Linked DNA regions of Homo sapiens. The protein of the gene in region 2 interacts with the protein of the main gene of each other region in a biochemical or structural test. Each region holds a gene or a part of one and is shown on either strand. Other genes may lie near its edges.

Region 1 (4,773 bases), on a different chromosome or scaffold from region 2:
CGAGCCTCACTTCCCTCCCACAGGCTGGCTTCCGTTGGTCTTCCCCTGACCCACAGCTCGGGTCGGCCGCACCGCCTCGCTACTGCCACCTAGGGGCGCCAGCCGGGCGCTGCGCTTCTCTCGCCATTCAGCCTTGAATTCGATTCAATAAACTGAATGGGATGGGAACACTAAGGAGGGAACAGTTGATTCCGGTGCGGGTGGAGGAAGAGTGGCAGTCAGACGAGGCTTCAAACGGCCAGTGAGCTCTGGGCTGAGCCATGGAGCATAAGCAAAGGATCTCCAGGTGGAAGAGATCTGTCTCCAGGTGGAGGCTGCAACAGGCAGGGAGGGTTAGAGTTTGGGGTCTACGTGCAGGGGCGGGGAGGGTTAGGGTGTGAAGGAACTGGCACTCCAAACTAAGGGCTTCTAGCTTTATCTTTTAAGCCACCAGAGAGGTCAAGAAAACGTGTCTTTTTTCTGCACAAAGATTTTAAATCAGAAGGGATACAATTAGATGTGCATTTACAGAACAGAACTCCTGCTGGAGTGTGGAAAGAGGGAAGAGATGGGAAGCGGAGAGTGAGAGAGGCAAGAAATTTTCATAAAGTTTTTTCATAATTCTCTCATTTCTTTTACTTGAAATAGCACCATGGGCTGGGCGCGGTGGCTCACACCTGTAATCCCAGGACTTTAGGAGGCCAAGGCGGGTGGATCACCTGAGGTCAGGAGTTCGAGACCAGCCTGCTCAACAAGGCGAAATCCCACCTCTACTAAAAATGCAAAAAATTAGCTGGACGTGGTGGCGGCTGCCTGTAATCCCAGCTACTTGGGAGGCTGAGGTTGCAGTGAGCTGAGATGGCACAACTGCACTCCAGCCTGGGCAACAAGGGTGAAACTGTCTCAAAAAAAAAAAAAAAAAAAGAAAAAGAAAAAAAAAAAAAAAGAAATAGCACCATGGTCCGGGCGCGGTGGCTCACGCCTGTAATCCCAGCACTTTGGGAGGCCGAGGCGGGCGGATCACAAGGTCAGGAGATCGAGACCATCCTGGCTAACACGGTGAAACCCCGTCTCTACTAAAAGTACAAAAAATTAGTCGGGCGTGGTAGCCGGCGCCTGTAGTCCCAGCTACTCGGGAGGCTGAGGCAGAAGAATGGCGTGAACCCGGGAGGCGGAGCTTGCAGTGAGCCGAGATCGCACCACTGCACTCCAGCCTGGGCGGCAGAGTGAGACTCCGTCTCAAAAAAAAAAAAAAAAAAGAAATAGCACCATGATCTCAGACTCAACACATCCAGACTGAAACTCTGTCTGCTCAAAACCAATGCATCAACATAAACAGTATTATTTCCTTCCACATTTGAGACGTTCGTGTATCTCAACCTCTTTGTGGGCCTCGAAGTTGCAGAATTTGATAATAGATCCCAGCACAGAACTTTGCACACAGAAAATATTCGATGACAACTGGAGTGCCCTGGAGCCTTGTGATTATAGGAGCAGTACAATCGAGTGGTTAAGAGTAAGGGTTTTGAATCAGAGGGCCCGAGTTCAAACCCTGGCGCAGCCACTTTAGTGCATGAGACTGGTCACATCAAGTGACCCATCTAAGCCTCAGTTTCTTCATCTCTAAAATGGAAATTAATGGAAATTATAACATCACCTGCCTCAAGGACTGCAGACAAACGTCCACAAAGTGTCAAGCACATAGTAAATCCTCAATAAATACTGGTGGCTATGTACAACATCATTTATTCAGTGCCTACCAGGCACAGACCACGCACAACGCAACGGGATTTCCACCCTCTTCAATTTGCACCACACTTTTGTCCTTCCCATTTTATAGATAAGAAAACTAAGGCTCAACAGAGTCAAGCTTGTTCGAGGTCTTGGGAGCATCTCCCAGGGCATTAGAACTTTTGGAGGAAGAGCATTTAGTTCAGTAATGGTTCTCACCTGTGCGTGTGAGAGTGGAAGAGACCCCTCCCCCGCAACCCGAGCCATCTGGCAATGTTTGGAGATACTTTTGATCCTCACGACTTGGAGCATGGGGATACTGCTGGCATCTAGTGGGTAGAGGCCAGGAATACGGCTCAACTTCCTACATTGCACAGGGAAGCCCCCACTACCACCACAACCAAAAACTATCTGACCCCAAACATCAGTAGGGCCAACGTCGAGAAACCCTGCTCTAGACAGATCATTCTCCTCATCTTCCCATTTCTGGCCATCCGGATCTTAGATGAACACTTTCTAGCAAGGGGGCTCAGTCCCACCACGGGAAGCCCATGCAGAAGTTGTGCAGAAGTTCTTCTCCACCTGCCCTGCACACAGTAGGGACCAAAACCCATTTTAACAAGCCCCGCAGCCCAGAGCACCGGAAAAGGAAGGAAGGGCATCCATCCCCCATTGTTCAACTGTGTGCAGCTTGTGTTTCCAACAGGCACACACACATATTTTACAAATCCTAACGTCCCACGCCCCACAAACAGCTTTGTTAGAGATGGCGCTCAAAAAAAGATGCAGTTTAGATTTTTTTTTTCCCCCAGGACTCCCGTGTATCTACTGAAGGGTTTGCACACTTCTCAAAGGACCTCGCACCGGCCGCGGTGCTCTGACAACGACCACAAAAGAATCTGTGGGATTTCCCGGGGGAGCAAGCCCGTGGGCCGTGACCTCTGCGCGCTCAAAGCGTTCCCGGCGCTCCCCCGTAGCTGGCCCCACTCTCCCGCCCCCGGAGCCCGGGCTTCCAAGGCGACCGGGGCCCCCGGCCGTGCAGCCCGGCCCCCCGGCGCATGCCCACGCCGTATCCCCCTCGCCCGTCCCTCGAGGCGCCAGAGGAATCCGGCCCCGGGGCCTGTAGCCGGCGCCCACACCGGCCCGCCCCGACCCGCCCGCCGCGGCCCCAGCGCGCGTCCCCTCCCCCGGTCCGGCGCGGCCTGGGCCTCGGCCGGTGCAGGCCCGCGGGCGCCCCGCGGCCAGGCCAGGCGAGCTCAGGCCTGCCGCGGCCTACCCCGTCGGGCGCCGCCGAAGGCCCCCCACCGCCTCACCTGGATGCGGGCGGGCGGGCCCGGGGCTGCTCCGGGGCGGGCGGGAGGCGGCGGCGGCGCGGCGCTAACGGCTCCGCTCGGCCTCGGTAGCGGTGGCGGCGGTGGCGGCGACGGCGACGGCGGCAGCGGCTCCTCCTCAGCGCGCACGACCCGCTCCGGCCCGCGGCCCGGACACGCCCCCCCCGCGCGCGAGCCCATTGGCCGACGTCCGCCACGGCGCGCTGCTCATTGGCCGGCGTAGCTGTCGCGGCGCTCCGGGGCGCGCGGGAGAGGCGGGACTTCCGGTCGGCGCCGCCTGCGAAGTGCTCCGCGGCCGGCGGAGACGCGGGCAGCCAGCGATGGCCGCGGAGGGGGCGAACTGGGTTCCGGCCCTCGGAGGCTGACGGAAGGCGGTGGCTGAGGAGCGGCGCCTCTGGTTGAGCGCTCGCCGTGTGTCCCGCACCTGTCTGTCCTGCCGCCGCCCGGTAAGGTAGGAAAGGTCAGCGCGCCGGGGTTACGGGTACAGAACCTGGGTTCGAATCCCGGCCCCGACGTTTCCGCACTACGTGCCGTTGGGCAGGAGCTGACGTCACCTTGCCGGGCCTCAGTTTCCTTCTCTGGTGCGCTGAGGAGGCGGGGCATGGAACGTGGTCAGCGCTTCATCGGTGCTGGCTCTTTGAGCAAGCCAGTTCCCGAAGGCTCAGCATCTCATTCATTCATTAAAATGTCATTGAGCGCCTACTGTGTGTCAATCACTGTATGGGCAGTGAGCAGAAAAAAAATACCTGGTCTTATTGGGCTAACATTCTAAACCAGCGCTGGCCTAGAATGCCCTAGTAGAAATACATGCAAGCTACATGTTTAATTTTTTTTTATGTAAAGATGGGCTCTGGTTCTGTTGCCCAGGCTGGTCTCGAACTCCTGGACTCAAGCGATTCTCCTGCCTCCGCCTCCCAAAGAGCTGGGATTACAGGCATGCCTGCACTCTGCCTAATTTTTTCTTTTTTTTTTTTATGATCTGAAAATAATAGTCTTTTTATTTTTATTTATTTATTTATTTATTTGAGACGGAGACTCGCTCTGTCGCCAGGCTGGAGTGCAGTGGCGTGATCTCCGCTCACTGCAACCTCCGCTTCCCAGGTTCAAGCGATTCTCCTGCCTCAGCCTCCTAAGTAGTTGGGCCTACAGGCGCTGCGCCACCACAACCAGCTAATTTTTGTATTTTTAGTAGAGACGGGGTTTCACCGTGTTGGCCATGATGATCTGTATCTCTTGACCTCGTGATCTGCCCGCCTCAGCCTCCCAAAGTGCTGGGATTACAGGCTTGAGCCACTGCGCCTGGCCTACAATTTTGTTTTTCTTTTTTTTTTTTTTTTTTTGAGACAGGATCTCACTCTGTCACCCAATTTGGAGTGCGGTGGTATGATCACAGCTAACTGCAGCCTCAACTTCCCCAGCTCAGGCAATCAATCCTCCGGCTTCAGATTCCTGAGTAGCTTAGACTACAGGATGTGCCACTATGCCTGGCTAATGTTTTATTTTTTTGTAGCGATGAGGTCTTGCTGTATTGCCTAGGCTGGTCTCAAACTTCTAGACTTAAGTGATCCTCCTGCTTTGGCCTCCCAAAGTGTTGGGATTACAGGCGGGAGCCACGGTGCCCAGCCTGTTTCTTTTTTTAATCATATTTTCTTAGAAGTTTTTTTTTTTTTTTTTTTTTTTTTTGGAGACAGGGTCTCACTCTGCTGTGCAGGCTGGAATGCAGTGGTGTGAT
Region 2 (4,295 bases):
GAAAGTGGAGAAATGGTGAGATTAGAACTCAGGGCTCCAACTCCCTGCCCATGTGTCTCTCAGGGCTCGGGGCCCAAGGGAGCAGCCGCCCCATTTACCACACTCTGAAGACCCTACCACTGAGGGTGTTTACCACAGGACATCCCGGCTGGCGTTTCTGTTGGAGATCACCTGCTCCTTCTCCCCCGGGCCCTGCTCTCCCTGTCCCATAGGTAGCACTGGAGTGTGACGACGTGGCCTGCATCCTGTGGGGTGTTTGTGCTCGCCATGGCCAGCTGTGGAATGCAAAAACCACTCACCAACCCCACTCCTGCAGGTGCTGGTTAATTGCAAAACCAAACACCCTGCAGGAAAAGTCTGGAACTGACAGCTCTCTATGAGGAACGCTGGCTCATAGGAGGGGCTAGAGTCTTGGTGTATCTATATTTCATTTCCGATTCTGTGGTCAGTATTTTTCAGTATTTTGCATAAATACTGTTATTATTATTTTTGTTGTTGTTGTGATCTGTAATTAGCACCTTCCTGATATGTGTGGCTTACTCTTATTTCCATATAAATATATATAAATATACCAGTAGTTTTCTAAGGAAAAGAAGTTTCCTCTTATTCTTACTCATTTTAAAATAAATAAATAAAATTGAACATAAATGAGAAAAAAGAATTTTTAAAATCTTATGCCTACAGGAAACTTTAGATTGAGCAAAAACAAGGGCATGTGATGTGAATAATCCCAAGATTCCAGAACTATTCACTTTAAAGACAATGATCTATGGATGTGAGGCAGCTTTTGTCTTTCCCCCAAAATGTTCTCCTGGGTAGCCAGGGAGGCTGGCTGGAGGCTGTGCTTGTGGAAGGCAGCTGGTCAGAAATCCCACGTGGATGGGGATCTACCCCAAGATGAAGATCCCTGGCTTCAGGAATTGACTGAATGTGTTCCCACCCCTTTCAGATCCTACGCTATGGAGTACAGACCATGTGCGGCAGTGGCTGGAGTGGGCGGTGAAAGAATATGGCCTTCCAGACGTCAACATCTTGTTATTCCAGAACATCGATGGGAAGGAACTGTGCAAGATGACCAAGGACGACTTCCAGAGGCTCACCCCCAGCTACAACGCCGACATCCTTCTCTCACATCTCCACTACCTCAGAGAGAGTAAGCTCCCCCTTCCTCCAAGGATAGATGGCTGTGGCTATGGTTCTTATGACCTGAGCTTCAGAGGGTTCAACCAGGTGTGTCGACAGCATCCTCCTGCCCTCGCCCAGTTCCCACTGGGGATCCGAGGGAGCCACATGCTTGGTATGTGATGACTTAGGGGAGCAACACCCTGGCCACATCACCTGATGAGAAGTAGTCAGCGCTCTCAGGAGAAGCCAAAATTCACTTCAACACTCAGCTGCCTCCTCCAGGGTCCTGCGACCAAGAAGATGGAATGTCAAAGGGGAAAGGAAGCGTTAACTGGTCACACATTAGTTAAGTCTCCATGATACCCCGAATCGAAATAGAATCATTAAGGCTTCTCTTTCGTAGGAATTAGGGGGATTATTCTCCCTAAAGCTACATGAAGCCCCACTTTATATTCTAACCTGAGCACAGAACAAGGGAAGTTTTCACTTTGTATCATGTGATTCGGCTTAACCTGACAGAAAGGGATGGCATGTTGGCATGAATCCAGAATGTTTGCTGCATGCTTTAATTTCTACAACGTCCAGCATGGTGAGAAGGAAGTAGTGTGACAGACAGTGAGGTGGATAAATTCTCCTCCATTGCTTTGCCTGGCATCCCAACCACTTCTTCCCTGAATTAAAGACGGGCCCCCATGTAGGTTTTAACATGCTAACAAGTAGCAGGTTGCTGGAAATAGTTATAAGCTTCCCATGATGTTAGTGTGGGAGTGGGGGAACGGTTTTCTTTCTTTCTTTTTCTTTCTTTTTTTTTTTTTTTTTTTGTAAGAAAGGTAATTCTCTTTCTCTCTCTCTCTTTTTTTTTTCATTTTGATGTCGCTTTTTGTTTTGTTTTGTAGCTCCTCTTCCACATTTGACTTCAGATGATGTTGATAAAGCCTTACAAAACTCTCCACGGTTAATGCATGCTAGAAACACAGGTAATGCTGGCCCCGCCCCTGCCTCCCAGCAAGAGCGTAGGGTCTTACGTACAGGTTGCATGCTTTCATGGGAAACCAGTCAGCGCGTGCCAGGAAGACAGAACGCAGGTAGATGATTCAGAATACTTTCGGATACTTAGGAATGTACCACAGCCTAAAGGAAGGTGAAGCCCTTTGGTTTTCTGAGCGCTTCCCAAGCACCCCACTTTGATTATCAAAGGGTTCCTTTTTAACCAGGAGACGTGCAGAATTTGCCTTTAGCCATAACTTAGCTCACATTTGCCGGATTACAGTCTTCTTCTGTTGGTCCCAATATATTCGCTGTGCTGACTCTGTAGACACTAAAAGCATGTTCGATATAAAAGGGCCCTTAGCAACCTCCTTTAATTTTTTCCATTTTTATTCTTAAAGAAATATTTGCTAGGATAAGTTGGAATTTTCTTTTTCCTTTCCAATAAACTTTTAGGCTATTTGATTTGTTTTCCTACAGACTTTGTATGTTTGCAAAAGGCAGGAGGGAATTTCTGTAACATTTTGAGAGCTTTTGTTCAGAGGGAACCTCTGCTATAATTTTGGAGAATATGAAATTAGTCACTAACCAAATGCCTGTTTTCTATCTCTAACCGTTGCCTCTACATTTGACTTAGTTATGTATTTATTTTGCCTGAGCCTAAGTAGGGTTTAACACCGTGCCTCATCCTGGCTAACCTTCCTCCCTCGCCCCCCGCTCACAGCAGAGGCTGGGTTTTCTGTGGATGAATGTGTTCCTGGTTCACATCCATCTGCTCCTTCCTGATGGAGAGAGTTCCGGAAGCATGGCCACCGGCTGCTCACCCCACTCTGTTAGCTGCAGGGACCCTCCACAATCACTCGGGCTAGGGAGGGAGACGGGAAGTGCCAGAAAGCCTTGCAAGTCAGCCAGTTAACTCACGATCAGCCCTCACATAGAAATACGCAATTTTCCCAATATTTACCATTTTATTTTAAAATATAAAATGTGAGTGAGTCCCGGTTTGAGTATTACAATGAAATTGCTCATTTATCATGGTCTTCTATATTCAACACATTGTCTTTTTAATCTGAAGTTTTAAAAAACCTGCTTCGAGTTGGTAGTACACTTTTTCAATAATTTTGGTTGCACACATCAGCCTATTAGTGACCTTGTGGCCAGAAATAACAGATAACTTAGAGGAAGTTACTTCCCCTTCTTAGGAAACACCTTTGAGCTATGCACATTTTCTGATAATTTCACATTTATTTATGAGTTCTTTAACCATTGAGTGAAAGTTTCAAAAAAGCTCCAAATATATTAAATTTTGCTATTGTTAAACACGGAAGAAACCAATGAACAAGACAACAAATTCCAAATGGACTGAACTATGAAAAGGGAATTTTCTCAGCTAACAGCATGAGTTTTGGTCAAAAGAGAGAGAGGGAAAATGCATTTGAATAGAGATGTGGATTAATTATTAATAAAATCCATATACTCTTAGGCTAAATACTTATAATTGCTTGATACTACTTTCCAAAAGCTCTGTAAAATATATTATGGGTTTTTATACAAGTTGAAAAATAAAACATGTACCATATAATTTTTTAATAAAACGAGATTGCCCAGTGGGAAGTGGGATTGAGGGGGACACAGATAGGGCTTCATCAAGAAGTTATAAAATCAAAACACAAAACGCTTTATAGCAAACGGGGCACAGGAGTACACCAAGGCTCCAAGTTTCACTTCCATCTTGAGAATCTGACAGGTGCACCTGTCTGTTTCTCCGGAGCTCTGTTAAGGCAGGTTTGAGGAGGTCTCTTCCCTTTGTTGTCATAGGGAAAAGTAGATTTGGCGCTGATGTTGAGATCGACAACCACAACAAAAGACCTTCACATGTTTGTCTTTCCTTTTGTCTGCAGGGGGTGCAGCTTTTATTTTCCCAAATACTTCAGTATATCCTGAAGCTACGCAAAGAATTACAACTAGGCCAGGTACGAAAACACCCCTGTGTGATCTCTTCATTGAGAGACATCCCAGATGTCCTGCTGAGATCCGTGCCCTAAGTCACGTGATACAAAGAGAGCTGATCCCGGAGCTGAAGCCAGTCCCAGACAGTCTTATTCTGCCTCTGTTGATTTGGAGACTAAATCCACTCAAACCATTTCATTCAAAGACCACACTAAAGGAATTAAGAGCAGATT

What was found. Proteins that work in one complex are often made in the same cells at the same time.
Region 1: the proteins of ERG (region 2) and ELAVL1 form a complex in vitro, tested with the Homo sapiens proteins (one large-scale study listed by BioGRID).

The regions. Positions count from the first base shown.
Region 1 is NC_000019.10:8,002,472-8,007,244, forward strand, and holds the start of ELAVL1 (ELAV-like protein 1), read right to left. Parts: upstream 3,171-4,773; 5' UTR 3,024-3,170; intron 1-3,023. UniProt on the Homo sapiens protein: RNA-binding protein that binds to the 3'-UTR region of mRNAs and increases their stability.
Region 2 is NC_000021.9:38,400,364-38,404,658, reverse strand, and holds part of ERG (transcriptional regulator ERG), read left to right. Parts: intron 1-949; coding exon 950-1,153; intron 1,154-2,021; coding exon 2,022-2,102; intron 2,103-4,013; coding exon 4,014-4,085; coding exon of another isoform or gene 4,086-4,295. UniProt on the Homo sapiens protein: Transcriptional regulator. May participate in transcriptional regulation through the recruitment of SETDB1 histone methyltransferase and subsequent modification of local chromatin structure.